4 separate regions of the Homo sapiens genome follow, and regions 2, 3 and 4 are each linked to region 1. Evidence: fine-mapped expression QTL. A gene starts in region 1. Each other region holds a variant in brackets. All regions are shown on one strand. Distances are from middle to middle.

The links. PIP is the estimated chance that this variant, and not a neighbour inherited with it, causes the effect.
Region 2: its variant is the best candidate, but not a certain one, in a credible set for the expression of LUZP1 in whole blood (INTERVAL, PIP 0.65).
Region 3: its variant is the best candidate, but not a certain one, in a credible set for the expression of LUZP1 in whole blood (INTERVAL, PIP 0.80).
Region 4: its variant is the best candidate, but not a certain one, in a credible set for the expression of LUZP1 in skeletal muscle (FUSION, PIP 0.52).

The regions. Positions count from the first base shown.
Region 1 is chr1:23,165,063-23,172,597 of GRCh38, reverse strand. LUZP1 (leucine zipper protein 1) reads left to right here and starts at 3,742. Exons shown (of 4, transcript NM_001395462.2): 1 at 3,742-3,832. RefSeq lists enhancers at 2,848-2,897, 3,973-4,504, 4,505-5,036 and silencers at 3,543-3,602, 4,594-4,733.
Region 2 is chr1:23,104,518-23,112,052 of GRCh38, reverse strand. LUZP1 (leucine zipper protein 1) reads left to right here. Exons shown (of 4, transcript NM_001395462.2): 2 at 2,926-3,031. Among named protein-coding and RNA genes, the nearest start is that of LUZP1, 61 kb to the left of the region's middle. The variant G/TTG (reference allele first, on the strand shown) is at 3,627.
Region 3 is chr1:23,000,942-23,008,476 of GRCh38, reverse strand. No RefSeq gene overlaps it. Among named protein-coding and RNA genes, the nearest start is that of TEX46, 11 kb to the left of the region's middle. The variant C/T (reference allele first, on the strand shown) is at 3,325.
Region 4 is chr1:23,009,612-23,017,146 of GRCh38, reverse strand. TEX46 (testis expressed 46) reads left to right here and starts at 1,295. Exons shown (of 3, transcript NM_001242521.2): 1 at 1,295-1,375; 2 at 3,102-3,264; 3 at 6,046-6,313. The coding sequence starts at 1,374. The coding sequence ends at 6,246. RefSeq lists an enhancer at 5,587-6,786. The variant G/A (reference allele first, on the strand shown) is at 4,431.

The DNA.
Region 1 (7,535 bases):
GATTGCAGTGAGCCCAGATCGTGCCACTGCACTCCAGCCTGAGCGACAGAGGGTGACCTCTGTCTAAAAAAAAAAAAATAAAAAAATAAAAATTTTTTTTTGTAAAGACAGGGGTCTCACTATGTTGCCCAGGTTGGTCTCAAACTCCTGGTCTCAAGTAATCTTCCCACCTTGGCCACCCAAAGCACTGGGATTACAGGTGTGAGCCACTGCGCCTGGCCTATTTAGTTCTTTATAGTCTCCATATTTTTCTATGCATATACTAAGCATATATTACAAACTATAACTACAGGATCCTACTACACTTGTAATTCGGCAACTTACTCTTACTCTTTTCACTTAACAATGCCCAATAGAGACCTTTATTGTCCAATCATACAAATCTATTCCTTTCCTTTTACTAATGGAGGTCTTGCTGGGAGGATGAGGACATGTTCAAATAGTAACAGCAACCACTATATCCTGGCATGAACTAGGTGCCAGGCTCTGAACTCAGCTCTTTCACATGTTTAACCCTCACAGGCACTGTGTGAGAAAGGTAGTATTATTATTTCCATTTTGCAGATGAGAAACTGAGGTGCAGAGACCTAAAAGCCCAAGATTACATAACTAGTAAGTGGCAGAGCTGGGTTTTGAATCCCGATCTTTCCTGTGCCAAAGCTTTTGCTATGAATAAATCAATAAGTGGTTGCTGGGATCATGGGTCCTGGGGAGAAAGTTCTTTCTTCAGAACCTCCCTTATATGTCCTGGGTTCTTCCTTCCAAGGGTTTGTGGTACTTGGAATCAGCATTAGCCCTTAGGAGCAACTCAGTAAAGGCCCTTCCTTTGCCTCCAGCAATCTTACAGCCATGATTACTTTTCACAGGAAGTGGTGTTTTTGAATATTTTTTCTAAAAATAAGCTATAATTTATTAGAGGCCTTTGAAGACCGGGCCAGGCATTTCAGGACACCCATGTGCCTGCCTGCAGCATAGGAAATTAATCAGAACCCCAAAGTTCCTCCCCTCCTTCCACAGGCCAGTGCTCTAGAAATGCCCAGTGCCTCATTGCAGTTCTCCTAGAGGATTGCAGAGATGCCAAGGGCGGTTTAACACAGATCCACGTCTCTGTAAAGAAGGTGAGAGGAGAAAGGCATGAAGCAGAAATGGGTCAGCTGTGCTGCAAAGAACTCTCAGAGAGAACTACACGCTGACCCCAGCTTGGAGGCATGCTGAATGGCAGAGATGCCCTGGGGCATCATCAGATGTGACTCTGCTGAATCCATCTGGGGTCTGCAGACTGGAGTGCTGGTTTCCATTCCAATGGGAATGCTTTGCAGGGCCACTTTCAGCAAGCCTCTTCCTTTCTCAAGACCCTAAAGTCTTCCATATGAAATGATTAGGTGGATTGTTATGAGGTGCTGTGTGGTGTTAATAACTAGAAATAATACTGATTATAGTAGTTATATATAAAAATACATATATAAATCATACAGTAATTATATATATATATATATATTTTTTTTTTTTGAGACAGGGTCTCGATCTGTCACCAGGCTGTAGTGCGGTGGCATTATCATGGCTTATTGCAGCCTCCACCTCCCAGGTTCAAGGGATCCTCCCACCACAGCCTCCTGAGTAGCTGAGACTGCACGGGCACCACCAGGCCTGGCTAATTTTTAGTATTTTTTGTAAAGACGGGGTTTTGCCATGTTGCCCAGGCTGGTCTCAAACTCCTGGACTCAAGTGATCCATCCCCCTGGACTCAAGTGATCCTCCCAAAGTGGTGGGATTGCAGGCATGAGCAACCGCGCCTGGTCAATATAATACTACTGAAAATAAGAATGACAGGGGCCTGATGTGGTGGCTCACGTCTGTAATCCTAGCACTTACGGAGGCCAAGGTGAGTGGATCACCTGAGGTCAGGAGTTCGAGACCAGCGTGGCCAACATGGTGAAACACCGTCTCTACTAAAAATACAAAAATTAGCCAGGTGTGGTGGCAAGTGCCGGTAATCCCAGCTACTTGGGAGGCTGAGGCAGGAGAATCTCTTGAACCTGGAAGGCAGAGGTTGCAGTGAACTGAGATCGTGCCACTGCACTCCAGCCTGGGCGACAAGAGAGAAAATTCGTCTCAAAAAAAAAAAAAAAAAAAAAGAAAGAAAAAGAAAATAAGAATGACAATCATATTGTTCATATTGTTTGTGGAACACTGTGCCTGATGTTTTCCATACAGTATCTTAGGTAATTTTAAAACAAACACCACAAGACTATATTATTATCCCCATTTTATAGATGAGAAGACAGGCTCAGAGATGGCTATTATGACCCCAGAACATATGATCCCAGGGTTTTCTGGCATCAGAGCTTGAGCTCCACAAACATGTGTGGGTTCTGACCTCCAGGAAGTGCTAAGAAACAAATGGGAGGTCAGTTCTTTATAAGTTGTAGTGTTCATGCCCACGTGAGGGTTAAACACAATGTTATTGGTTATTCAGAACAGGGAGGATTGCTTTCTGGCTGGGAGAAGCTGGGAGGTGAGACAGCAGGGGAAGAGCTTCAGCAAAGGGTCAAATGTGGGAAAGCAGTGGGTGTGCTAAGAGAAGTTTGGATAAACTTTGTGTGTGTGTGTGTGTGTGTGTGTGTGTAAAGGTAGGAAGTGATCATACCAGGCCAGGGCTTTGGCCTTTATTCCATAGGCAATAAAGAGCTTACACAAGAGATGTCTCAAGAGACCAACCATGCTGCTGTAGTCAGAGAGGAAGCAGCCCTCAGCCCATCTGTGTCCTGGCTTGTGAATGCTGCTGCGTGCCAGCGTGTGGGAGGGCATCCGCAGCGAGAGCAGTCTCTGGCTGTGTCCTGTACTATGCTGGGTGTGGGTCTTGGGCTGTCTTTGAAGCCTTCCTCCTGGCTTCTCAGGGCACTAGGTGCCTTTTAGATAGTAGACTTAAAGGAAGTATGTCATAGAAGTATGGGAGGGGATTTTGAGATCATCTGGTTATTCCCCCTTCCCATTTTAAAGAAGATGAAAATCGGGAACATAGATGGGAAAGTACTTGTCTAGCATCACACAAAGAATTAATAGCACAGTGGGGGACGGGAACCCATGCCTCCCGAGTCTGAGCTGAGTTCCTTCTCTGCATTTGCAGAGTAATAGAAATAGGATTTGTTGAGTGATTATTCCATATCAGGTTCTAGGCTAAGCACCTTTCCATTGATTATCTCATTTAATCCTCACAACCCTACTGAGAGTGTCCCGCTTTTTTCTTTTTCTTTTGAGACAGGGTCTCACTCTGTCACCCACGCCGGAGTGCAGTGGCACGATCACGGCTCACTGCAGCCTCGACCTCCCTCGGCTCAAGCGATCCTCCTACTTTAGCTTACCGGCGGGCGCCACCACTCCCGGCTAATTTTTGTATTTTTTATAGAGATGGGGTTTCGCCATGTTGCCCAGGCTGGTCTCGAACTTCTGAGTTTAAGCGATCCGTCCGCCTCAGCCTCCCAAAGTTCTGGGATTACAGACTTGAGCCACCACGCGGGCCGAAAGTGTCCCTCCTGAAATCGAGAAGTCTTGTCTTCCATTTCGATTTCCCAGGGCGCCTAGCACAGGACCCAGCTACGGAGGCAATAAAAACTTGGTGGAGTCTAAGTCCTGGGAAGGGAAAAAAAGGACGGAGGGGGCGGGGCCTACAGACAACCCCGCCCATCACAAAGACCCCGCCTTCCAGAACGCTGACGTCACAATTTGGCCCCGCCCCTCATTGTCAGTCCCGCGGAGCCAGAGGAGGCGCCGGTCGCTGGCAGCTGAGCGGCGGAACCCTTCGCTGGCGGGAGCGCGGTTCGGGGCCGCAGAGGTGAGGGTCCGTGAGGCGGCGGCGGCGGGAGCGCGGCGCGGGGAGGGGAGGGCGGCGGGGTTGGGAGGCCGGTCCCGGGTGAGGTCGGGGCACCCGCGGCCACGGGGCAGAAGAAACCGCGGGCGCAGCCGAGGAGAGATGGGGTGTGGAGTTGGGGGAGAGTTGGAATGGATTTTGGAGGAAGGGCTCAGGAGGAGACCTTTTGGGGCGAGACCCAGCACATGTTTGTGGAGTTGGAGGAAGAGACTCTGAGGAGATTTTTCCTCGGGAGGGGGAGGGAAGGTTCTGAGGAGACTTCTTGGTGGGAGCGAGACTCTGAGGAGAAATGTTTGGGGCAGAGACGCGGAGGAGACATTTTCGAGGGGGCGGCGAAGAGTTTCGGGGGTAGAGTTTGGGGTTGGGGGAGGGGGCGCGGGCCGACAGGGGCGGGGGGCGACGAGGCGGCCGTGGAGGGGGCTGCGCGGGGCCCGGCGGGCACCGGAGGAAGGAAGTGATCAGACAGGAAGGGCCCGGGAGCTGCAGCAGCAGGAGGAGGAGGGCGGTTTGGGAGCGCGTCGGGCCGGCGTGCGGGGCCAGCTGCGGGCGCGGGGCGCGGGCCGCGGGCCGGGCGGGGAGGGGTCCCGCGGCCGCCGCAGCTGTCGGCCGCGCCGGCCCGCGTCCCGGGCGCTCTGCTGGTCTCGCAGCCAGACCGCTGGGCCGGGAAGGAATTCGAGGCATTCGCTTTGTTTAAGTTGCCAGTAGACAGTCCTTAGGACTAATTAATGGTGGAATCTGCAGGGGGACGCCGGCGAGCGGGGCCGGGGCCTCCCCCCGCCCGCCGCGGTGAACTTTCCGCAGCGCGGGGCCCGCCTCCCGGCGCACCCCCGGCCCCCGCCCAGCCGCCCGGGCAGGGAAGGAGCCATGGCTTCCCGGAGCGCAGGAATGAAGTGCGGTTTCTGGGGCTGGTGGCCTCTGGCTGCGGAGCCTGCCTGCAGGGAACCTGGCGACCCGCAGCGGCCGCGCTGGGGCTTCGGAGCCCGGTTTAGAGCTCTTGGAGGTGGCTGCGGTTTCTGTGCATAACCTTGGAGGAGCCTCTGTGAGCCGAGAAAGACCATCTTGCTTTGGAGCATCTGTTTCTTCATCGCGTCAACCCCTTTCCTAACACTGCAGAGCTTGTTGTGGCTTGTTTCGGGAATGCCGAGGCCAGTGCTCACCCTTGCGGGTGGGAGAGGGGAAGAGAGTAGGCACCCCCAAAACCCCTGTAGTGTGATTTCCAGAAGGCCAGACTGCCTGCAGCTCCACCGTCGCACCTTCACTGACTTGAATGACCTTGGGAGAAGGATTGCGCTGCTGAGCCCTTGGTGCCTTATCTGTCGTTGGAGGAGAAAATACTCTCTGGACCTCCCTGCCTTTTGGGGATGTTTTGAGGGGTGGGGTTTGCTCAGGGTATTTCTTTTACAGACGGCTGCAGTTCTGGCCTAAGGAGCTGGACTGGTGTCAGAGCCGGGAGAATTCAGATCACCTAATAAGATTTGACTACCTCAAATTAGGGAGGGAGGGGTTTGGATTTTAGGAGGACATTTCTTTTTGGGGAATCTGGAAGGTGTGTTCCAGATTGCCTTCTGTCACCTTGTTTGCAACTTTGGTAGTATTCATGTGGTTAAATTGAATTACCCCCATAGAAAATTCTTCTTTTGTCAGAAATAATTGTTTTGCTCAGAATTCCCCTGGGGGCAGATTAAGGTTTTGCTCAATTTACTCCTAGAAGAATTTACTCCTAGAAGAATTTTCCAGGTTTCTAAAATTAAATCACTTTTCTAAACATAGTAACTAAAGTTTGAAAAGCTGGAAATAGTGAGCTGGGAAGGGAATGGGTTGGAGTATGAAGAAGGCAGCAAACACAGGTTCATTGTTGACCAGTGATTAATAATGCGGATTGTTAATTAGCCTTCGTTGATTATGAGGTGTTTTCTTAATCTTAAATAATTTAAGACCAAGAAAAGGAACTAATGTTGTTGAGTTGCCTATTCTGTACCCAGTAATTATGCTAGGTGGTATAGATCTTAGGCAGTCTTCCCAAGAATTTTGTGAGGTGGTAGTTAGCATCCCTTTTTTTTTTTTTTTTTTTTTTTTGAGACGGAGTGCTCTGTGTCACCCAGGCTGTAGTGCAGTGGTGCGATCTCGGCTCACTGCAACCTCCGCCTCTCATGTTTAAGCTATTCTCCTGCCTCAGCCTCCCGAGTAGCTGGGATTACAGGTGTGTGCCACCTTGCCCGGTTAATTTTTGTATTTTTAGTGGAGATGGGGTTTCACCATGTTGGCCGGGTTGGTTTCGAACTCCTGACCTCAAGTGATCTGCCCGCCTCGGCCTCCCAAAGTGCTGGGATTACAGGTGTGAGCCACCGCTCCCAGTCAGCATCCCTGTTTTATAGATGAGCAAGCCAAAGGTCAGAAAGTAAAGTGGCTGTCCCAAGTTCACACACACAACTAGTAAGAAGTGGCACTGGAATTCATACCCAGGTCTGTTTCTCAGGTCTGTGGTTGTCTCTCTACTTTGCCCACTGCCTTGGGAATCATGAGACCTAGTTTTTTGGCCTTTGACTCAGCCACTGGGTGACTGTGGGCCCTAGAATAAGTCATTTAAGTCTATTCTCCAATAGTATTGCCTTTTCTTTCAGCAGTGTTGTAAATATGCACTTGAAGTGTGCTGTTTTTCTTTTCTTTTTTTTTTTTTTTTTGGTAAAAAGACAAACATATAAGGCTGTAGTAGTGTAGTAGTGGTATGTACTATATGCCTCTAGGTGCTTACTTATTTCTTATGATGAAAGCATTTCTGTTAAAATGGGGAGTACCTAAGTGATCATATATTTCATTTATGTAATGGAAGTTGATGGATAGCTAATGGCCCTTCCAGTGTAAAGCGGCCATCATTAAGGTAACATTATCAGAAACAGAATCATTTTTCATGTAATACAGCTTTTAGGGACAGTGTCAACTTATGAGTAAAGCATGCTGTTACAGGTAGGACCCGGATAGTCCAGGCTGAAAGATGTGGTATAAACTTTGATGCATATAATAGATGCATAGCAAATATTTGATGAGTGAATGAATGAATGTAATGAATGTATTCCCTTTTTTTTTGGAGTGCAGTGCTGTGATGATGTCTCACTGCATCCTCTACTGCCTGGGCTCAAGTGATTTTCCCACGTCAGCCTTCTGAGAAGCTGGGACCACAGGTGTGTGCCACCATGCCTGGCTAACTTTTTTTTTTATTTATAGAGATGAGGTTTCCCTGTGTTTCCCAGGCTGGTCTCCTGGAACTCCTGGGTTCAGGGGATCCTCCCATGTCAGCCTCCCAAAGTGTTGAGATTACAGGCATGAGCCATCATGCCCTGCCCGGAATGCATTCTTTAAAAAAAAAAAAAAAGCTTTATTGAGGTATAATTTACATACAATAAAATTCACCAATTTTAAGTGTACAGTTTGACAAATTTTGACACATGTATACAGTTGTATAATTACCACCACTGTGTTTATTTTTTTAAACTGTGTGTTATCTTTTAGGAATTGGGTAGCAGATTTATCCCTGGGAATGTTATGAGGTTTCTATGCTCAGATTCAATACTGTGAGATCAGAATGAATATTAGAGTGTTAATGTGCCAACTTGGGAGGAAATAGGAAAACCTTCGGTATTTAATGGTGAGGTAAATAGGAAGAATAAGG
Region 2 (7,535 bases), 61 kb after region 1:
CAGTGCATTCTGTCTTGTTTTGAAGAGAAAAGCCCCTGGGCCTTAGTAACATGTCAGCAAATTTGGCAGTAGGTGGTAGGTGCTGGGACAGTAGATTTTAGCAGGGGCGCTGCTATCACTGTTAGGGCTGCAGAGACCTTAGGGGAGATAGACCAGATTTATGTGACCATTTCTTAGAGTTCAGAATTTTTATGTAGGAGAGGTTTTAGGCTATGCAGAAGAAGATGAGTGTGTGTGTGGGGGGGCGGTGTTTGTGTGTGGGTGTTGTGTGTGTAAGGTGGGTGGGGAGGGGGAAAGAGACAGGTGGTGATGGGGTAGGACGGAAAGTCTGTGGAACTGTCCTAAAACTATTTGAATACCAATCACACTTACTTTAACTTCCATTGATTATTTTTTAAAAGCAGAGGGTGGAGAGCTAAAGCTTCCCCCACATCCACCTAAGCTATCTCTTGGGTGCCGCCTTGGTATAGATCGTTTTTAAAATTATTTTTAAATATAGAGCGTCACTCTGTCATCTAAGCTGGAGTGCAGTAGGACAACTGTGGCTCACAGCAGCCTCAAACTTCTGGGCTCCAGGTGATCCTCCCGTCTCAGTCTCCCAAGTAGCTAGGACTATAGGTGTGCATCACCATGCCCAGCTAATTAAAATTTTTTTTTTTTTGTAGAGATGGGGGCCTTGCTTTGTTGTTGTCCAGGCTGTTCTTGAACTCCTGGGTTCAAGCAATCCTCCTGCCTTGGCCTCCCAAAGTGCTGGGATTATAGGCATGAGCCACTGTGCCTGGCCTAGATCCTTTTTTATACTTATTTTCTAGCTGTTTTTATTATCAGTAACTTTTTTTTTTTTTTTTTTTTTGAGACAGCGTCTCACTGTGTCGCCCAGGCTGGAGTGCAGTGGCGCGATCTGGGCTCACCACAAACTCCGCCTCTTGGTTTGAAGAGGTTCTCTTGCCTCAGCCTCCTGAGTAGCTGGGATTATAGGCACATGTCACCATGCCCAGCTAATTTTTGTATTTTTAGTAGAGATGGGGTTTCACCATATTGGCCAGGGTTGTCTTGAACTCCTGACCTCAGGTGATCTGCCCGCCTTGGCCGCCCAAAGTGCTGGGATTACAGGCGTGAGTCACCGTGCCTGGCCGATACTATCAGTAACTCTTCTCTTTGGGAGGCCAAGGTGTGAAGATTGCTTGAGGTCACGAGTTTCAGACCAGCCTGGGTGACATAGTGTGACCCCATCACTACAAAAAAAAATTCTTTTCAAATTTTATTCTCTTGAGGCTTGAGTTACTACTGTTCCCCTCATCTTTTAAGCTGTTTTTAAAAAACTCTCATTATTTGTCCATTGTAATTCTAGCCGCCTTGCTCTCTGGGAAGATAGAGGCAGGGATGGGTGTGTGTGTGTGTGTGTGTGTGTGTGTGTATGTGTGCGCGTTCATGCATGCGCGCAGGTGCAGGTATGTGTGCATGTGTGCATGTTTTGGTGGAGGTGTGGAAGTTGGATTAAAGGGACCAATAGTCTTGGAAGGCAGTCACAAGGTGGCTTGCAGGGATGTGTAAGGGAGGCAGTTGTGATGAAAGAAGGGAGGATAGTTTGTAAGATCATGTACAAAAGCTTTAGGTTTACCACTAGCTTAGAAGCTACCTTTCCATTTTCCTCAAGAGTAAGATAACACAAGAAGTTTGACCCAGATCTTCCATCTGTAGTAGCTCTTCTCTAATTTTAGGGGTAAGATTCAATGGGATGGTAGGCTTTTCAACTCTCCTGTAGAAGCCTGCTTGTTTCAAAACTGGAGGGTAAGTTTGCAGAAAGAAAAGCTCTATTTTTAGTTTTAATTGATATTGGGTGGTTCAGGGCTCTTTTGAGGACCGAGTCTAGAGGGCAACAAAATGAGAGCCAGCATGGTGAAGGGACTTTCAAAGTCAGACAGACTTGAGTTTAAACTCTGTCATTTAATAACAAGCTGTAAGACCTTGGACAAGTCACTTCTTGAAACTTAAATTCTTTATCTGTAAAGTAGAGGTAACATTATCTTCTTATTGTCTTATATAAAACATAAAGCATAGTGCTCAGGGTTGGTAAATACTCCGCAGATGTTTTTTTCCTATCTTCTAGAACATCTTATTTTTAGTAGAATCCTTGCTTTTCTGCTAAATAATTGTGTGACTCACCCTTTCTAAGTTTTAGTTTCCTTCTGTAAAACAAGGACATTTAACTGAAGGTTGAGTATCCCCTTATCCGAAATCCCTGGGACCAGAAGTGTTTTAGATTTCAGATTTTTAAAAAAAATATTTGCATGTATACAGTGACATGTCTTGGGATAAGACCCAAGTCTAAACATGAAATTCGTTTATGTTTCCTATACACCTTATACATATAGCCTGAAGGTAATTTTATTTTTCCCCAGGGGACATTGAATAAACCTGAGTATTGTGTGCCTGTATTTTGACTGCGACCTATCAGATGAGATCAGGTATGGAATTTTCCACTTGTGGAGTCATGTGGGCACTCAAAACATTTCAGATTTTGGAGCATTTTGAATTTGGGATTTTCAGATCAGGGATGCTCAACCTGTAGCTGATTTCTGAGATGCTTCCTAGCTGTAAGATGTCATGTACATTTTTAGACTGTTGAGGAATGTTCGGGTGTTTTAATTTAAGCAAAGACAGTGGGTTCTACCCTAGGACCATATCATCTTATAGGAAAGGGGAAGTCTCCTACAGCCAAATTCTTTCTTGACTTTCCTGAGAGAGACATAGCCAGCTTAGCCAGGTTCCTTTAGTGTCAGGATCTAGATGCAGATCTTACCTTGGCCCCTTGCTGACAGTGAATTGTATGTGAAAGTCTTTGGGACAGCCCTCTGGGTCACCTCAGTCTTGGTATGATTCATGCATTACCTATCTCTTCCATTCTGTTTATATTCTATCCAGGTCAAGAGACAACTGCCTTTGAAAGAGAGTGAGTGACTGTTTCCAAAACAGCAAGCATAGGGAGAGCCGCCGGAAGTATTGACGGAAAGCTTGAATTACCTACATGGTAAGTATGTTGTACAGTGAAACCTGGGTGTACCAATAGAATTGGGTGGTTTCTGAAGCCACTATAATTTTGCCACTACTGGAAGTGGGGAGGAAAGTCAGTATTTGTGATGGCCTATTATGAACCAAATACTATGCTGAGTACTTAACCAACCAACCTGATGAGGGTGAAAAATCCTTGCATGAAGTTAGCAACCGTAAGAATTAGGCCACCCTTAAGAAGTAGCTACCATTTATTGAATATTTACTCTATGTCGGGCGCAGTCCTGTTGGACATGTTATCGCCCTACCAACCCTGTGAGGTAAGTACTGTTGTCATCACCACAAGGAAACAAGCTTAAAGAGGTTAAATAACTCTTCCAAGTTCACACAAGTAGTAGAACTAGGTTTCAAACCTGCATTATTTTCTTTCCTTTTTTTCTGAGACTGGGTTTCGCTCCCATTGCCCAGGCTGGAGGGCGGTGGCGTGATCATGGCTCACTGCAGCCTTGACTTCCTGGGCTCAGGTGATCCTCCCACCTCAGCCTCCCTAGTAACTGGGACTACAGGTGTGCACCACCATGCCCAGCTAATTTTTTTGTAGAGACTGGGTCTCT[G/TTG]TATTGTCCAGGCTGGTCTCAAACTGCTGGGCTAAAGCAGTCCTCCTGCCTTAGTCTCCCAAAGTGCTGGGATTACAGGCATGAGCCACCACCCTAGTGGGTTATTTTCATTACACTATAATGTTTCCCTTTTAAGAAAGTTACTTTTTGGTTGAGGCTGTGACTGATTTAACCTTGGAAAAGCAAAGCAAAATACAAAACCTTTTGATCAACAATTAGGTTCTTTTCCTAGCCATTTATGGATTTTATGTGCCAATATTTTATTGGTTGGTGTTGGCTAAGGCAGAGGAGAGCACTAATGAAATAGAAGAGATAGAAGTGAGAACTTGAACGGTCAGTGGCCAAGAGACCTGGTGGTCTTGGTTGCTCCTGATAGCTGGATGATAGTTAGAGAAAGCTTCCCTAGGAAAGTAGAGCAATAGGGTAGCTCAGAATGAGTGGGAAATGGGTTCTCGTCATAGCAGTGACTGGGCATAGGAAAGGAATCTTAACAAAGCCTCTTGCTCTCATGTCAACCCCTCTGAGGAAATAGGTGTAGTTAGGGATAATACAGAACTCTTCTCGAAGGAGTGGAAAAATTCAAGGCAAACTCTTGCCCTGTATTTTTTTATTTTTTGCAAGGCGTAGTCTTGCTCTGTTGCCGAGGCTGGAGTGCACTGGTGCGATCTTGGCTCACTGCCTCTGCAAACCTCCTCCTCCTGGGCTCAAGCGATTCTCCTGTCTCAGCCTCCCGAGTAGCTGGGATTACAGGTGTGTGCCACCACGCCTGGGCTAATTTTTGTATTTTTTGTAGAGACAGGGTTTCACCATGTTGGCCAGGCTGGTCTTGAACTCCTGACCTCAGGTGATTTGCCCACCTTGGCCTCCCAGAGTGCTGGGATTATAAGTGTGAGCCACTGCACCCAGCCTACACATACCTATTACACATAAAATATTTTGCTATATACTGGGGCTAATGTTCTGATGACAAAAAATGGCCACTTACTACACGCTTTAGTTATCGGAACTAAGTATACTGCATTAAACAAAATAGAAAAAGTCCTTTCTCTCAAGGATTATATTCTAATGGGTGGAAACAGATAAAAATGAATAATTAGATATAAATAAATAAACAGGTGAGTAGACAAATAACATCCACTAGATAGTACATGCTAAGAAGACAAAAAAGCAGCGTAAGGTGATAGTGGTGGGGAGCTGAGGGATTGCTCCTTTATGTACAGCAATCAAGGAAGGCCTCTGATGAGGTGATATTTTAAGCTAAGATCTAAAAGAAGTGAGGAGTCCAGCTAGGGAGATATCTGGGGGAAAAGCATCCTAGGCAGAGGGAACAGCAGGTATAAAATCTCTGAGGGATGAGTGTAACTGGTCATGTATAAGGACCCATAAGGAGGCCGTGTGGCTGGATTGGAGTAGTAGGGAAGGAGCAGCAGATGAGTGATGGGACCTAGATCATGTAGGGCCTTACAGCCATGTGACACCTTTGGAGTGCATTGTATTCTAAGTGAGGTGCACTAAAGAGCTTAGAGCAGAGGAGTGACTTGATCTGACTGATGTTTTAAAAGGCCTACTCTGGTTGTTGTGGGAGAACAGACTGTGGAGGGTGGGGAAGGATGGACACTGATGGGAGCAGGGAGACAAGTTAGGAAGCTTTTGCAGTAATCAGTAGTCCAGGGCAGGGATGATGGTAGGTTGGACCTGGGTGGTAGTGGTGGCTAACCAGAAAGCAATGGCTTCTAGACATACTTTGAAGGCTCTCAAATTCTAATTCTCCCCATAGACCTGTTTGATTTTTTTTTAATTTAAATTTTTGGTTTTGTTTTTTGAGACAGGGTCTCACTCTGTCACACAGGCTGGAGTATAGTGGTGTGATCTCAGCTCATTGTAGCTTCGACCTCCCAGGCTCAGTTGATCCTCCCACCTTAGCCTCCTGAGAAGCTGGGACTACAGGTGCATGCCACCACTCCCAGCTAAATTTTGTATTTTTTGTAGAGAAAGGGTTTCACCATGTTGCCGAGGCTGGTCTTGAACTCCTGGGCTCAAGCTGTCTGCCTGCCTCAGCCTCCCAAAGTGCGCTAGGATTATAGGCATGAGCCACTGTGCCCATTTGAGAGGTGTTTGATTTATTTGGAGTTAACGTCTGGGTCACAGGGGTTTGAGGATGTCATTGGAAACTTGACAGTGATCTCTGGTAAAATTCTAAAATTGATTGATCAAAGAATGAGAACAGTGATCCCTAGAAGCCAGCTTGTGTTCACTAAGAATAAATCATGCTAGCTGATAACAATTCTTTTTTTTCTTTAAGCCTTGCCATGATTTTATTTAAACGATCGGTACAAGTTCAGTATAAAAATATTAGAGAATAGACATAAGCAAAAACAGAAAAAAAGCACATTATCCAGAGATAATTACCATATAGCAGTTTGATATATATATCAGAGCATTTCATTTTTGGAAAGATTCCTAGGTCGCTGGAGGATTGGAATGTGCTACAAAGGTAATGTGTCTTAAGTGCTAACATTAGGTATTTAATGTTTTCTCATGTGATCCCAAGACAAAAAAAAAAATTTTACCTGGCTTTGGAGCTTCTTGAATAGTTGCACTCAGGAATTGTAATAGATCAGTGTTAATCTATAGGAGGTGTTTTTAATGATTTTGGTTATATTTTGTTTTTGAACATCAATTTGGATGAAGATATAGAAAAGACATGCCTATGAGACTTAAATAGCGAATGTTTGCAGGCTAGACAGTGTAGAGAATATTTAGTCAAGGGATTGAAACTAAGAAGTTGAAATCCAAAAATAATAAATAATAATTTAAGCTGAAACTTACATGACACTTACTATAGACCAGGTACTAGTCTAAGCAATTCTTGCATTAACTTATTTACACATACCATAACCTTATAGGTATTGAAGCATAGAGAATTCAAATGACTTATCCAAGGTCACACAGCTAGTAGCTAATAAAGTCAGGGTTTGAACTTAGGCTGCCTGGCTTCAGAGTTCGTAAACTTTAATCATTGTATCACGTTGCCTGCAAAAGAATTAAGCCCCATATTTCAATTATTAAAAATGAGATTTAACAGTTTATTTGGAAACAAAGCCAGTATGAACCTACAAATTGGTACTGTGGCTATCAGATTCGTTCATGCAATCTTGGACTTCATTATTAGAACTGGGCAGACCAGGTCATCTTTCATCCATCCCACCCTTTTACCCCATTGCTACTGTCCTGGTTCAGGCCCTTATCCCATCTCTTGCCTTGACTATTACAATAGCACCCTAGTTTATCCTGCTAGAATGGCCTTTCAAAAACTGCAGTTCTGATTGTGTTACTCTCTTACTTAATCCCTTTGTCCAATACAGGTTGCAAATTTGCTTCCCATATCCACTTGCAGGCATGTATGTTTTGGAGGGACTATACAGTGGTATTCTTTTTATTTCCTCTTTTTTGAAATCTGAATTCATTGGCTACATTTAAGAGATTATATATAAAAGTAGGGCATAGCCCCTCTTAGCCATAGTCCTTCTAGGCCCTTTAACTCATTTAAATCATTGGCCTGATCTCTTTGGCACCTGCATTTCAGCCTCTGGCATAAAGGCTAAGCATCTTTCCTAGAATGTAGTGCCTAGATCTGAAAATAGTCCCCTTTATGTAAATTTGGCCAGTACAGAATACAATAAAACTATTACATTAATTTATTTACAAAACATTTATAAGGTTCCTACCTTGCCCCTGTCACTGTATTCAGTGCCCAGGACTGAAAAATGAAGATAACACAGTCCCTGCTCTCAGAGCCCAGCAGAGGATGACAGATATTTTAAGTATCATGGATATAGTGATAGAAGCATCTACAGAATTTAGGATGGTGCATTTCTCTTGCGGGGAAGGATGGTTTGAAAAGGCCTC
Region 3 (7,535 bases), 160 kb after region 1:
CACACAGATACTTATTTCTCACAGTTCTGGAGGCTGGGAGGTCCAAGATCAAGGCTCTGGCATCTGGTGAGGTTGGCTCTCTGCTTCCGAGATGGCACCTTGAAAGCTAGATCTCTGGAGAGGAGGAATGTTGTGCCCTTATAAGGCATAAGTGGAAGGGCAAAAAGGAACAAACTCCTTCTATGAAGCATTTTTTTTTTTTGAGGCAGAGTCTCGCTCTGTCGCCCAGGCTGGAGTGCACTGGCGCAATCTGGGCTCACTGCAAGCTCTGCCTCCCGGGTTCATGCCATTCTCTTGTCTCAGCCTCCCAAGTAGCTGGGACTACAGGCGCCTGCTACCATGCCCAGCTAATTTTTTTTTTTTTTTTTTTTTTGTTTTTTTTTTTTGAGACGGAGTCTCGCTCTGTCACCCAGGCTGGAGTGCAGTGGCCTGATCTCTGCTTACTGCAAGCTCCGCCTCCCGGGTTCACGCCATTCTCCTGCCTCAGCCTCCCGAGTAGCTCGGACTACAGGCGCCCGCCACTATGCCTGGCTAATTTTTTTTTGTATTTTTAGTAGAGATGGGGTTTCACCGTGTTAGCCAGGGTGGTCTCAATCTCCTGACCTCGTGATCCGCCCGCCTCGGCCTCCCAAAGTGCTGGGATTACAGGCGTGAGCCACCGTGCCCGGCCGCTATTTTTTTTTTTTTTTTGTATTTTTAGTAGAGATGGGGTTTCACCGTGTTAGCCAGGATGGTCTCGATCTCCTGACCTCGTGATCTGCCTGCCTCGGCCTCCGAAAGTGCTGGGATTACAGGCATGAGCCACTGCGCCCAGCCCTATCAAGCATTTTATAGTGGCATTGACCCATTCATAAGGGCGGAGCCCTCATGACCTAAATACCTCCCCAAAGGCCACACTTCTCAATACCATTCCATTGGAGATTTTTTTCAACACATGTATTTTGGGAGACACGTTCAGACCACAACATTCTTTCCCTGGTCCCCCAAATTTATGTCCTTCTCATGTGCAAAATATATTTAGTCCATCCAGATAGCCCCCAAAGTCTTCACTCATTCTAACATCAACTCAAAAGTCTGGAATCTCATCTAAATCAGATACGGGTGAGACTCAAGGTACAATTACCCTGAGGCAAATTTCCCTCCAGCTGTAAACCTGTGAAATCGAACAAATTATGTGCTTGCAAAATACAGTGGTGGGGCAGGCATAGGATAGATATTTCCATTCCAAAAGGGAGAAATAGAAAAGAAGACAGGAGTAACAGGCCCCAAGTAAGTCCAAAACTTTTTTTTTTTTTTTGAGACAAGATCTGGCTCTATCGTCCAGGCTGGAGTGCAGTGGTATGATCTCAGCTCACTGCAACCTCGTCCTCCCTGTCTCAAGCCATCCTCCCACGTCAGCCTCCCAAGTAGCTGGGACTACAGGTGCGCACCACCACACCTGGCTAATTTTTTGTATCTTTTGTAGAGACAGGGTTTCACCACGTTGCCCAGGGTGGTCTCAAACTCACGAGCTCACGATCTGCCTGCCTTGGCCTCCCAAAGTGCTGAGATTACAGGCGTGAGCTACTGTACCTGGCCTCTAAGTACAAAACTTAACTGTGCAAACAACATTAAATCTTAAGGCTTGCATAATCTTTGAGTCCATGTTCTGCCTCCCAGACACACTGGTATGAAGGTTGGGCCTCCAAGACTTTGGGCAACTCTACCCCCGTGGCTTTGCTAGCTGCAGTTGTCACACACATCGAAGGTGGGTGCTTGGAGTAGCACACTAATGCTCTACAATTCTGAGGTCTTCCCACTCCTATGGCTCCACTAGGCACTGCCCTAATCGGGACTCTCTGCAGAGGTCCCAACCCCACAGTTCTGCCGGGCATTGCTCTGGGTTTGGGGGGCGGCTCTCTGTAGTGTAGTGGCTCTAGGTCTCTGCCTAAGTCCCCAGGCTCTCTGAGGCATCCCTTAAAATCTGGGTGGAGGAAGCTATGGCTTCACAGATCCTGCACTCTGCACACCTGCAGAATCAGCACCACACGGATGCTGCCAAGACTCACTGATTATGCCCTCTGGAGCAGTGGCCCCAGCTGCACTTAGACTTGCTTTAGCCACACCAGCAGAGGCTGGTGTGCTGCACCAGAACACAGGGAGGTGGTCCTGGAAAGCAAGCCCTGATGTCCCACAGGGTCCCCTGGGCAACTCCTCCAAAACTGTTCTGCCTCCAAAGTCCTAGCACTCTGAGCCTGTGATGGATTTGGCAGTGCCCGAAGATCTTCGAGATGCCTTTGGGGTCATTCTCCCATTGTCTTGATGAATAGCATCTGGCTTCCTTCTATCCATAGTGATCTTACCAAATGGTCCTTTGCTTGGTTTAGTGTTCTCTCCTAAAAACACTTTTTAATTCTTTACATGGCCAGGCCTGAGAAATTTCCAAATATTTATATTCTGCTTCCCCCTTACCAACTCCCTTTTTTTGAGACAGAGTTGGAGTCTTGCTTTGTCATCCAGGCTGGAGTGCATGGCGCAATCTTGGCTCCCTGCAACCTCTGCCTTCCGGTTTGAAGCAATTCTCCCGCCTCAGCCTCCTGAATAGCTGGCATTACAGGTGCCCGCCACCACACCTGGCTAATTTTTGTATTTTTAGTAGAGATGAGGTTTCACCATATTGGCCGGGCTGGTCTCGAACTCCTAGTCTCATGGTGGCTGCCTGCCTGGGCCTCCCAAAATGCTGAGATTACAGGTGTGAGCCATGGTGCCTGGCCTGCTTCCCTTTTAATTATAAGTTCCGCCTTTAAATCATTTCTCTCTTCTTGGACTTTACTGAAAGCAGTTAATAGAAGCCATGCAGCGTCCTGAACACTTTGCTGCTTAAGGATTTCTTCTACTAAATATCCTAGTTAATCAACTCTTGTAAACCAAAAAGTATCTGAGACAAGTCTCAATCAATTTAGAAAGTTTATTTTGCCAAGTTTAAGGATGCATTCATGACACAGCCTCAGGAAGTTCTGACAACATGTATGCCCAAGGTGGTCGGGGTACAGCCTGGTTTTATACATGTTAGGAAGTCATGATACATCAATCAATATGCATAAGTTGTACATTGGCTTTGGGAGGCCAAGGTGGGGAGATCACTTGAGGTCAGGAGTTTGAAACCAGCCTGGCCACTGTGGTGAAACCCTGTCTCTACTAAAAATACAAAAAAATTAGCTGGGTGTAGTGGTGGGCACCTGTAATCCCAGCTACTCAGAAGGCTGAGGCAGGACAATCGCTTGAACCTGGGAGGTGGAGGTTGCAGTGAGCTGAGATTGTGCCACTGCACTCCAGCCTGGGTGA[C/T]AGAGCAAGACTCCGTTCTCAAAAAAAAAAATAATAATAATAATACATTGGTTCAGTCCAGAAAGGTGGAACAGCGGAACAACTCAAAGCAGGGAGGGAGCTTCCAGGTCATAGGTTAGAAACAAACAATTGCATTCTTTTGAGTTTCTGATTACCCTTTCACTGAATACACACTTTCCGGGAATAACCACTTATGCCTTAGTCTGGCTTAGTGAAACAATAGGGCAAAGGAAGCAATCAGATATGCATTTGTCTCATGTGAGCAGAGGGATGACTTTGAGTTCTGTCTGTTCTTTGTCCACAGTGAATTTCCTTGTGGGTAAATTGTGAGGGAGGTATGTAGCTTTTTAATCTTTGTAGCTATCTCATTTAGGAATAGAATGGGAGGCATGTTTGCCTAACACAGTTCCCAGCTTGACTTTTCCTTTTGGCTTAGTGGTTTGGGGATTTGGAGATTTATTTTTCCTTTCACACTTTCCCCCTTTTCTTTTTGAAACCTTCTGGAGAAAGCATTTCAGAAGAAAATGAGTCTCTGGTCTCAGGTTTATTTTTATTTTTTAGAGGCAAGGTCTTACTATGTTTCTCAGGCTGGTCTTGAACTCCTGGGCTCAAGTGATCCACCCACCTCAGCCTCCCAAAGTGCTGGGATTATAGGAGTGAACCACCGCACCTGCCCTGGTCTCAGGTTTTGTCTGATCTTTCATGGCTAGGATGGTTTATTCCTAGATGGGAAGGTCCCATTTTATTAGTGTCAGGTCTCTGAGCACAAGCTAAGCCATTATAACCCCTGTGACCTGCACGTATACATCCAGATGGCCTGGAGCAAGTGAAGAACCACAAAAGATGACATTCCACCATTGTGATTTCTTCCTACCCCAGCCCAACTAATAAATCAACCTTGTGACATTTCTCCCCTGGACAATGAGTCTTAGGATTTCCCCACCCTGCACCTGGTGACCCCCACCCCTGCCCGCAAGAGATAACCACTTTTAACTGTAATTGTCCACTACCTACCCAAATCCTATAAAACTGCCCCACCCCTATCTCCCTTTGTTGACTCATTTTTTGGCCTCAGCCTGCCTGCACCCAGGTGAAATAAACAGCTTTATTGCTTACACAAAGCCTGTTTGGTGATCTCTTCACATGGACGTGCGTGAAAACTTGGTGCCGAAGACCCAGGACAGGAGGACTGCTTCGGGAGACTGGTCCCCTGTCCTCACCCTCACTCCGTGAGGAGATCCACCTACGACCTCAGGTCCTCAGACCAACCAACCCAAGGAACATCTCATGAATTTCAAGTCGGGTAAGCGGTCTTTTCACTCTCTTCTCTAGCCTCTCTCACTACCCTTCAATCTCCCTGTCCTTCCAATTCCAGTTCTTTTTCCTCTCTAGTAGAGACAAAAGAGACACATTTTATCCGTGGACCCAAAACTCCGGTGCTGGTCACGGACTCGGGAAGACAGTGTTCCCTTGGTGTTTAATCACTGTGGGGACGCCTGCCTGATTATTCACCCACATTTCAGAGGTGTCTGATCACCACGGGGACACCTGCGTTGATCCTTCACCTTGGTGGCAAGTACCACCTCTCCTTGGCGGCAAGTACCACCTACCCTGGGTGGCAAGTACCACCTCCTCTGGGCGGGAAGTACCACCCCCCTCTCTCCGTGTCTCTACCCTCTCTTTTCTCTAAACTTACCGTTTTATTGTGGGCAACCTTCCTCCCTCCATTCCTCCTTCTCCCTTAGCCTGTGTTCTAAAAAACTTAAAACCCCTTCAACTCACAACTGACCTAAAACCTAAATGCCTTATTTTCTTCTGCAATACTGCTAGGCCCCAATACAAACTTGAAAATGGCTCTAAATGGCCAGAAAATGGCACTTTCAGTTTCTCCATCCTACAAGAGCTAGATAATTTTTGTCGAAAAATGGGCAAATGGTCTGAGGTGCCTGACGTCCAGGCATTCTTTTACACATCGGTCCCTCCCTAGCCTCTGCTCCTAATGCAACTCATCCCAAATCTTTCTTCTTTTTCTCCTGTCTGTTCCTTCAGTCTCCACCCCAAGCTGTGGGTCCTTTGAATCCTCCTTTTCTATGAACCCATCTGACCTCTCCCCTCTTTCCCAGGCTGCTCCTTTCGAGGTCCCAATTCTTCCTCAGCCTCCGCTCCCCCACCCTATAATCCTTCTATCACCTCCTCTCCTCACACCCGGTCCAGCTTACAGTTTTGTTCTGCGACTAGCCCTCCCCAGCCTGCCCAACAATTTCCTCTTAGAGAGGTGACTAGAGCTGAAGGCACAGTCAAGGTTAATGCTCCTTTTTCTTCATCCGACCTCTCCCAAATCAGTTAGTGTTTAGGCTTTTTTTAATCAAATATGAAAACCCAGCCCAGTTCATGGCCCATTTGGCAACAACCCTTAGATGCCTTACTGCCCTAGACACAGAGGGGCTAGAAGGCTGACTAATTCTCAATATGCATTTTATCACTCAGTCCACTCCTGACATTAGAAAAAGCTCCAAAAATTAAATTCTGGCCCTCAAACCCCACAACAGGACTTAATTAACCTCACCTTCAAGGTCTGCAGTAATAGAGAAGAGGCAGCCAAGTGGCAACCTATTTCTGAGTTGCAATTACTTGCCTCCGCTGTGAGAGAAACCCCAGCCACATCTCCAGCACACAAGAACTTCAAAACACCTAAACCGCAGTGGCCAGGCGTTCCTCCAGGACCTCCTCCCCCAGGATCTTGCTTCAAGTGCCAGAAATCTGGCCACCAGGCCAAGGAATGCCCGCAGCCCGGGATTCCTCCTAAGCCGTGTCCCATCTGTGCAGGACCCCACTAGAAATCAGACTGTCCAACTTGCCCAGCAGCCACTCCTGTAGCCCCTGGAACTCTAGCCCAAGGCTCTCGGACTGACTCCTTCCCAGATCTCCTCAGCTCAGTGGCTGAAGAGTGACACTGCCTGATTGCCTCAGAAGCCTCCTAGACCATCACAGATGCTTTGGGTAACCCTTACAGTGGAGGGTAAGTCCGTCCCCTTCTTAATCAATATGGAGGCTACACACTCCACATTACCTTCTTTTCAAGGGCCTGTTTCCCTTGCCTCCATAACTGTTGTGGGTATTGATGGCCAGGCTGCTAGACCCCTTAAAACTCCCCAACTCTGGTGCCAACTTGGACAACATTCTTTTATGCACTCCTCTTTAGTTATCCCCACCTGCCCAGTTCCCTTATTAGGTCAAGACATTTTAACAAAATTATCCGCTACCCTGACTATTCCTGGACTTATAGCCACATCTCATTGCTGCCCTTCTCCCCAACCAAAAGCCTCCTTTGTGTCTTCCTCTTGTATCCCCCCCCCAACTTAACCCACAAGTATGGGACACCTCTACTCCCTCCCTGGCAACCGATCACATGCCCATTACTATCCCAATAAAACCTAATCAACTTTACTCCACTCAGTGCCAGCATCCCATCCCACGACAGGCTTTAAGGGGACTAAAGCCTGTTATCACTCACCTGCTACAGCATGGGCTTCTAAAGCCTATAAACTCTCCTTCCAATTCCCCCATTATACCTGTCCAAAAACCAGACAAGTCTTACAGGTTAGTTCAGGATCTGTGCCTTATCAACCAAATTGTCTTGCCTATCCACCCCATGGTGCCAAACCCATATACTCTCCTATTTTCAATACCTCCCTTCACAACCCATTATTCGGTTCTGGATCTCAAAGATGCTTTCTTTACTATTCCTTTGCACCCTTCATCCCGCCTCTCTTTGCTTTTACTTGGACTGACCCTGACACCAATCATTCTCAGCAACTTACCTGGGCTGTATTTCCACAAGGCTTCAGGGACAGCCCTCATTACTTCAGCCAAGCTCTTTCTCATGGTTTACTTTCTTTCCACCACTCTGCTTCTCACCTTATTCAATATATTGATGACCTTCTACTTTGTAGCCCTTCCTTTGAATCTTCTCAACAAGACACCCTCCTGCTCCTTCAACATTTATTCTCCAAGGGATATCGGGTATTCCCCTCCAAAGCTCAAATTTCTTCTCCATCCATTACCTACCTCAGCATAATTCTTCATGAAAACACGCATGCTCTCCCTGCCAATTGTGTCTGGCTGATCTCTCAAACCCCAACCCCTTCTACAAAGCAACAACTCCTTTCCTTGCTGGGCATGGTTGGATACTTTTGCGTTTGGATACCTGG
Region 4 (7,535 bases), 160 kb after region 1:
AAATAATATAAGCATACTATTTAGAAATATCAAGGTAAATACAGAAGAAACAGCTAAAAAAGTTGGAATTGGTTGTCTCTAAGGCTTGGAACTTGACGGTGGAAAGAGGTGAGGCAGTGGATTGGAGCTTGTTTTAAATCCTGTAGTTCTATCTGACTTGTTTGCACATTTAATAGTTTGATAAAACTTGAAATTAGATGTTAAAAACATACATACCCTTTGACCAAGTAATTCTACTTTCAGGAAAGCATTCTAGGGAAAGATTCAGTATGTGTACAGATTTAACTTCAACACTGTGTATCTCAGGTTATACGTAATGACGATAAAGGAGAACTAACCTAAAAACCCAACAAAGGCCAGGCACAGTGACTTGCATCTGTAATGCCAGCATTTTGGGAAGCCGAGGTGGAAGGATTGCTTGAGCCCAGGAGTTTAAGGCTACAGTGAGCTATGGTCACGCCACTGCACTCCAGCCTGGGCAACAGAGCAAGACCCTGTCTCTAAAACAATAAAAATTTTAAAAAGCCCCAACAAGTGGTAACCAATTTGATACAATCATACACCGCATAACAATGTTTCCATCAACAACAGACTGCATATGAGATAGTGTTCCCATAAAATTATATAACACATTTTTACCATACCTTTTCTACCTTTTCTATGTTTAGACAGAATTGCTACAGTATTCAGTACAGTAACATGCCATACAGGTTTGTAGCCTATTAACAATACACTATACCATATAGCCTAGGTGTGTAGTAGGCTATACCATTTAGGTTTGTGTTAAGTATGCTCTATGATGTTCACACAACAATGAAATTGCCTAATGGCGCTTTTCTCAGAATGTATCCCATCGTTCAGTGAGGCATGGTCCTAGCAAGGCATGATTCTATATTGGAATATCACAGCCACTAAAACTGATATTTTTACATAAAGAATTCCTGGCCGGGTGTGGTGGCTCATGCCTGTAATCCCAGCACTTTGGGTGGCCGAGGCGGGTGGATCACCTGAGTTCAGGAATAGGAGACCAGCCTGGCCAACAATGGTGAAACCCCGTCTCTACTAAAAATACAAAAATTAGCCAGATGTGGTGGCACTTACCCGTTTTTTCCCCAGAAATAACTAATTCATATCAGATGTTTTTATTGTGATAAAATACACATAACATAAAATTTATGATCCTAACCATTTTGAGTATACTGTTTAGTAGTGTTAGATGCATTCACATTGTTGCATAAACAATCTCCAGAATTATTTTCATCTTGCAAAATTCTGTATACATTAAACAATGACTACATTTGCCCCTCCTTCCAGACCCTGGCAGCCACCATTCTACTCTTTGCCTCTATGAATTTGACTATTGTAGATAGCTCATGTAAGTGGAATCATACGGTATTTGTTTTTTTTTTGTGACTGACTTATTTCACTTAGCTTAATGTCCTCAAGGTTCATCTATGTTGTAACATGTTAGAATTTCCTTCCTTTTTAAGGCTGGTAATATTGCGTGTATATAACATTTTATTATCCATTCATCTGTGGATGGACACTTGGGTTACTTCCACATTTTGGCTATTGTGAATAATGCTGCTGTGAACATTGGTCTACAAATATCTCTTCAAGACTCTGCTTTCAATTCTTTGGGAATACCCAAAAGTGGAATTACTATAGCAATGTATGCTTTTTTTTTTTTTTTTTTTTTTTTTTTTTTTTGAGAAGGAGTCTTACTGTTGTCGCCCAGGCTGGAGTGCAGTGGCGCGATCTCGGCTCACTGCAACCTCTGCCTCCTGGGTTCCAGCAATTCTCCTGCCTCAGCCTCCCGAGTAGCTGAGATGACAGGCGCCCGCAACCACGCCTGGCTAATTTTTGTATTTTTGGTAGAGACGGGGTTTCACCATGTTGGCCAGTCTGGTCTGGGGTGGTCCACCCGCCTCAGCCTCCCAAAGTGCTGGGATTACAGGCGTGAGCCACCGTGCCTGGCTAGCATTTTTTAAAAGCTGATGTCTTCACTGGGCACGGGGACTCACACCTGTAATCCCAGCACTTTGGGAGGCCGAGGTGGGCAGATCATTTGAGGTCAGGAGTTCGAGACCAGCCTGACCAACATGGTGAAACCCTGTCTCCACTAAAAATACAAAAATTAGGTGGGTGTGGTGGTGCGTGCCTGTAATCCCAACTACTTGGGAGGCTAAGGCAGGAAAATCGCTTGAACCTGGGAGGCAGAGGTTGCAGGGAGCCAAGATGGTACCAGTGCACTCCAGCCTGGGCAGCAGAGTGAGAGTCTGTCTCAAAAAAGAAAATAAATAAATAAAATAAAATAATAAAAGTTAATGTCTCCAGGAGGGAGAATTGCTTGAGGCTAGGAGTTTGAGACCAGCCTGGGCAATATAGCAAGACCTTGTCTCTAAAAAAATAATTTTTTTTTTTAATTAGCTGGGCATAGTGGCACATGCCTGTAGTCTTAGCTACTCAGGAGGCTGAGGCAGGAGGATCACTTGAGCCCAGGAGTTGGAGGCTTCAGTGAGCCACAATCACACCACTGCACTCCAACCTGGGCAACACAGTGAGACCTTGTCTCAAAAATAAAATAAAATAATAATAAATAAAAAATTAATGTCTAACTATACAGAGTCCAAAACCTAATCAATATTACATATTATATTAAACAAAGTTACCTTCCCCTAAAGTATCAGGTGACCAATAGATGGGCTAGTATAACTGTGAAAGCAGTTATGTCTAAGTTTGGATAACTTTTCTTTGCCCCTATGATGGTAGGGGCTCTGTATTGGCCATTTTTTTTGCTAGTAGCGAGGCCCAGAAGTACTGGTGAATGAATGAGGAGGCCTACATCACCTGGCTATTGTGAGGACATCATGAGATAATGCTTTCAAACTGCCTGTCAAAGAGTCTGGCACATAGTGGGTGCTTCAGACAAAGGAGGAGTTATTATTATTGTTATGCGGCAGCTGGGTGGGGGGAGGGAGCTGGCTATGACTCAGAGGAGTGGGTGGCCGTGACTCTTGTCATGGAGGGGCCTGAGGCAGGGTCCTGGGGCCTGTGTGCCTCCACGCCATAATGCTGGCAGAACTGATATTTCTCTTTAGGAGTCTCCATGGGATACTTGCCTCCGCAGGCACCATAGGAGCAGTGGCAGCTTGGCTGATGAGCTATAAGCCAGCCTTGTTTGGGTTCCTATTCCTTCTGCTGTTGCTTAGCAACTGGTTGGTCAAGTATGAACACAAGCTCACCCTCCCAGAGCCCCAGCAGGTGAGCACAAGATGGGGCTTGGCTTCAGCTCAGGGATAGGGGATATTTGCAGCTAGATTAGGTGGGTAGGGAACAGGGTAGGTGTCGAAATAATGGGGCAAGACTGGGGAATCCAAGACTGGTCTAAACCACCACTCTACAGCTTCCTCTTAGGTGGTGCTGGGTAAATCACTTCCCTCCACGAGGCCTCAGTTGCCTCACCTCAGCTGTTAAATCAGGACCACCCCAGACTCTCCTATTTCATGTTTGATGTCAACATGCTTTGGCAAGAGTAACAACTACTTTAATGTGAAAAAAATAAAAAAAATTAACATGGACGAACATAGATACGTATCTAAAATAGAATAATGAAGACAGCAGAAATGTACATAGATTATGACATCTTTCATTTAATGTTAAAAAACATGCTAGGCTGGGCGCAGTGGCTCACGCCTGCAATCCCAGCACTTTGGGAGGCCGAGGCAGGTGGATCACTTGAAGTCAGGAGTTCAAGATCAGCCTGGCCAACATGGTAACACCTCGTCTCTACTAAAAATACAAAAATTAGCTGGGTGTGGTGACACACACCTGTAATACCAGCTACTCAGGAGGCTGAGGCAGGAGAATCACCTGAACCCAGGGGACTGAGGTTGCAGTGAGCTGAGATCATGCCACTGCACTCCAGCCTGGGCAACAGAGCAAGCTTCCATCTAAAAACAAAAATAAAAAGCAAAACAGCCTGGCGCAGTGGCTCACAGCTATAATCCCTGCACTTTAGGATGCCGAGGCAGGTCAACGACCACTTGAGGCCAGGAGTTTGAGAATAGCCCAGGCAACATGAGGAAACCCCATCTCTAAAAAAAATACAAAAATGAGCCAGGCATGGTGGTGCGTGCCTGTAGTCTCAGCTACTCAGGAGACTGAGGTGGGAGAATCACCTGAGCCCGAGAAGTTGAGGCTGCAGTGAGCATGCCACTGTACTACAGCCTGGATGACAGAGTGAGACTCTGTCTCAAAAAAAAAAAAAAAAAAAAGGCAAAACAATAGCCTATCTTATTTATGGATGTGTATGTGCAGTGAAAGTATTTTAAGGCAGGATGCCTCAACCTTGGCACTATTGACATATTGGGCCAGATAATTCTCCATTGTGGGAGGCTCACCTGTCACCTGTGCATTGTTAGCTTAGC[G/A]GCCACCCCGGCCCCTACCCATGAGATGCCAAGTAGCACACCTGCCATTTCATGACAATCCAAAGTATTTCCAGATATTGCCAAATGTCCCCTGGGGAAGGCAGAATGCCTCCCATTGAGAACTACTTTATAAAGAAATGCATGGAAAAATAAATTTTAAATGCAGGATTACAGTTAAGGTGATGATATTCAGGGAGGGAGGAGGATGCTGTGGGTGTGAGAGTCCACAGGGAACTTTAGTTATATTTATGATATTTTATTTCTTAAGTTGATATGGGAATATGAGTATTTGTTGTATTATTTACCTTTTTGCATGCCTGATATGTTGAATTTTTTCAGTTAACCTTTTTTTTTTTTTATGTATTTAGTTTTTTGAGACAGGGTCTCGCTCTGTGGCCCAGGCTGGATGCAGTGGCACAACCATGGCTCACTGCAGCCTCGACCTCCCTGGGATCAGGTGATCCTTCCACCTCAGCCTCCCAAGTAGCTGGGACTACAGGTGTGCACAGGGCTAATTTTTTCTAGTTTTTGTGGAGACGGGATTTTACCATGTTTCCCAGGCTGGTTTCAAACTCCTGGGCTCAAGCGATCCTCCTGCCTCGGCCTTCGAAGGTGCTGGGATTACAGCCATGAGCCACCACACCTGGCTTAATTTTTAAACATTTTTAAAGACCATTAGTTTGTAGCTGAATCCAAAAAGAAAAAAAAAATAAGTGTTATTAACCAGGGGAGGGAGAGATGAGGATCATAGAGATAAAAGCATGTCATGAGACCATTGAGACTTCGCAGTTTGAGATCGTACTGAGCCTGACAAAATGCTCAGAGAGGCATGTTGGAAAAACGGGCTCTGGAGATAGATATATTTAGGCTAAGGGCTTTATGTCCACTGTGACTGGCAGATTAGCGGGCCATCTCATGCATTCCTATGAACCAAAGGCAAGTGGAGGACTCGGGAATTTGAGGCTGTATGATGCTGAGAAAGTGACCTCCCAAGCTGGGCCTGGTGGCTCACGCCTGTAATCCCAGCACCTTGGGAGGCCAAGGCGGGCAGATCACCTGAGGTCGGGAGTTCGAGACCAGCCTGGTCAACATGGTGAAACCCTGCCTCTATTAATAATTACAAATACAAATACAAAAATTTCTACTAATACAAAAAGTTAGCTGGGTGTGGTGGCACGTGCCTGTAATCCCAGCTACTCTGGAGGCTGAGGCAGAAGAATCGTTTGAACCCGGGAGGTGGAGGTTGCAGTGAGCCGAGATCACACCATTGCACTCCAGCCTGGGCAACAAGAGTGAAACTCAGTCTCAAAAAAAAAAAAAAAAAGAAAGTGACTTCCCGTTACTGGGTCCCAAGTCTCCACAAAATGAGGCAATGATGCTCCCCTTGCAGGCAGTTGTGAGACTCTGTTAAGATAATGTTTGTAAACCACCTGGCACAGAGCAGGTGTTCAAGCAAGGAAGGGATTATCATTATTAACCAACTTTCCCCTTTTCCTGGTGCTGGGGAGCTTAAAAGGAGGAAGAGAAACCAAAGACTTCTGAAAACGACTCCAAGAACAGCAAGGCCGTGAACACAAAAGAAGTCAATAGAACGCATGCCTGCTTTGCCCTCCAGGACGAGATCCTCCAACGGCTGTTGTTCAGTGAAATGAAGATGAAGGTCCTAGAAAATCAGATGTTCATCATATGGAATAAAATGAATCACCACGGGCGGTCAAGCAGACATCGGAATTTTCCCATGAAAAAACACAGAATGAGGAGGCATGAGTCAATTTGCCCCACCCTGTCTGACTGTACTTCGAGTTCCCCCAGCTAATGAGGCCGAGGCGGGCTGGCCTCTGCCGATGTTACCTTTTACCTCAGTAAAACCCAGTCACAGCCTATTGAATGTTCATAGTAAGTCATAACAGAAAGGTGCCTAGGAGCCAGGAAGAGGATCAGAGGCTGAAAGATTGCCTCTGGAAAAGAAATCTGTACACACCAGGTCTACCAGGTAGCACGTAGTGACACGGCCTGATGGGGCTCTAGAACCATCCCTTTCTAGAGTCTTCTATTTCAGTTGGTTCTACCCTGGTTCCTCCCTGGCCCTGTGCTGTTCACTCTGAGTCTCCCCACTCCTGCCCTAGCCCCTAGTTTCCCCTCTCATCCTGTACCCAGAGGCCGAAGCCAGCCCTGCCAAGCCTGGCTCTGACCATGTCCATTGCTCATTCTTTTTTTTTTTTTTTTTTTTGAGACAGAGTTTCGCTCTTGTCACCCAGACTGGAGTGCAGTGGCACGATCTTGGGTCACTGCAACTTCCACCTCCCAGGTTCAAGTGATTCTCCAGTCTCATCCTTCCAAGTAGCTGGGATTACAGGCACCCGCCACCATGTGTGGCTCATTTTTGTATTTTTAGTAGAGACAGGGTTTCACCATGTTGGCCAGGCTGATCTCAAACTCCTGACCTCAGGTGATCCATCTGCTTTGGCCTCCCAAAGTGCTGGGATTACAGGCATAAGCCACCACGCCCGGCTCGTGTTACTGCATTTCAACCAGAGCTCGGTTGCCCACTGACAGATCTGAGCCGGTGTTCTGTGTTAAAAAGTGAGATCAGCAAGTGTTAGCGTTTGAAAGACAAGCAAGCACCTAGCCGAGACTTTTCTTCATAATGAAAACTGGAAAGGAAATCATTATCTCACTGTTTGATTCAGTGTGACTTAGTGTTAGGTTGGTGTTCTACCTAAAATCGTCTCTCTCATGCAAGTCTCATGCATTCTAACCAAACCAGAGAACTTGCCATCCCCCAAATGCATCCACATAAGCTTACATTGTTTCTTCACGTGATCCCTAATTTTCTCCTTTCTGCTGTTACAATTCTTCACTTCTTCCAAAGCCATCACCTCTAGGAAGCTCCCCTCAAGCCAGCTATAATGAATCTTTTTCCTTAGCATTGTTTCCACATTTTATGTGTAGTTCTACAATAGAATGTTTCACAGTCTGCTGGGATTTGATTTGTACACATTACTACAGTCCCTCCCCATGCTTCAACTAGACTATAAGCTCTTTGAAGACAAGCACAGAATATTGTTCATCTGTATATCCCTCCCCCACCCGTAGCACCTAACA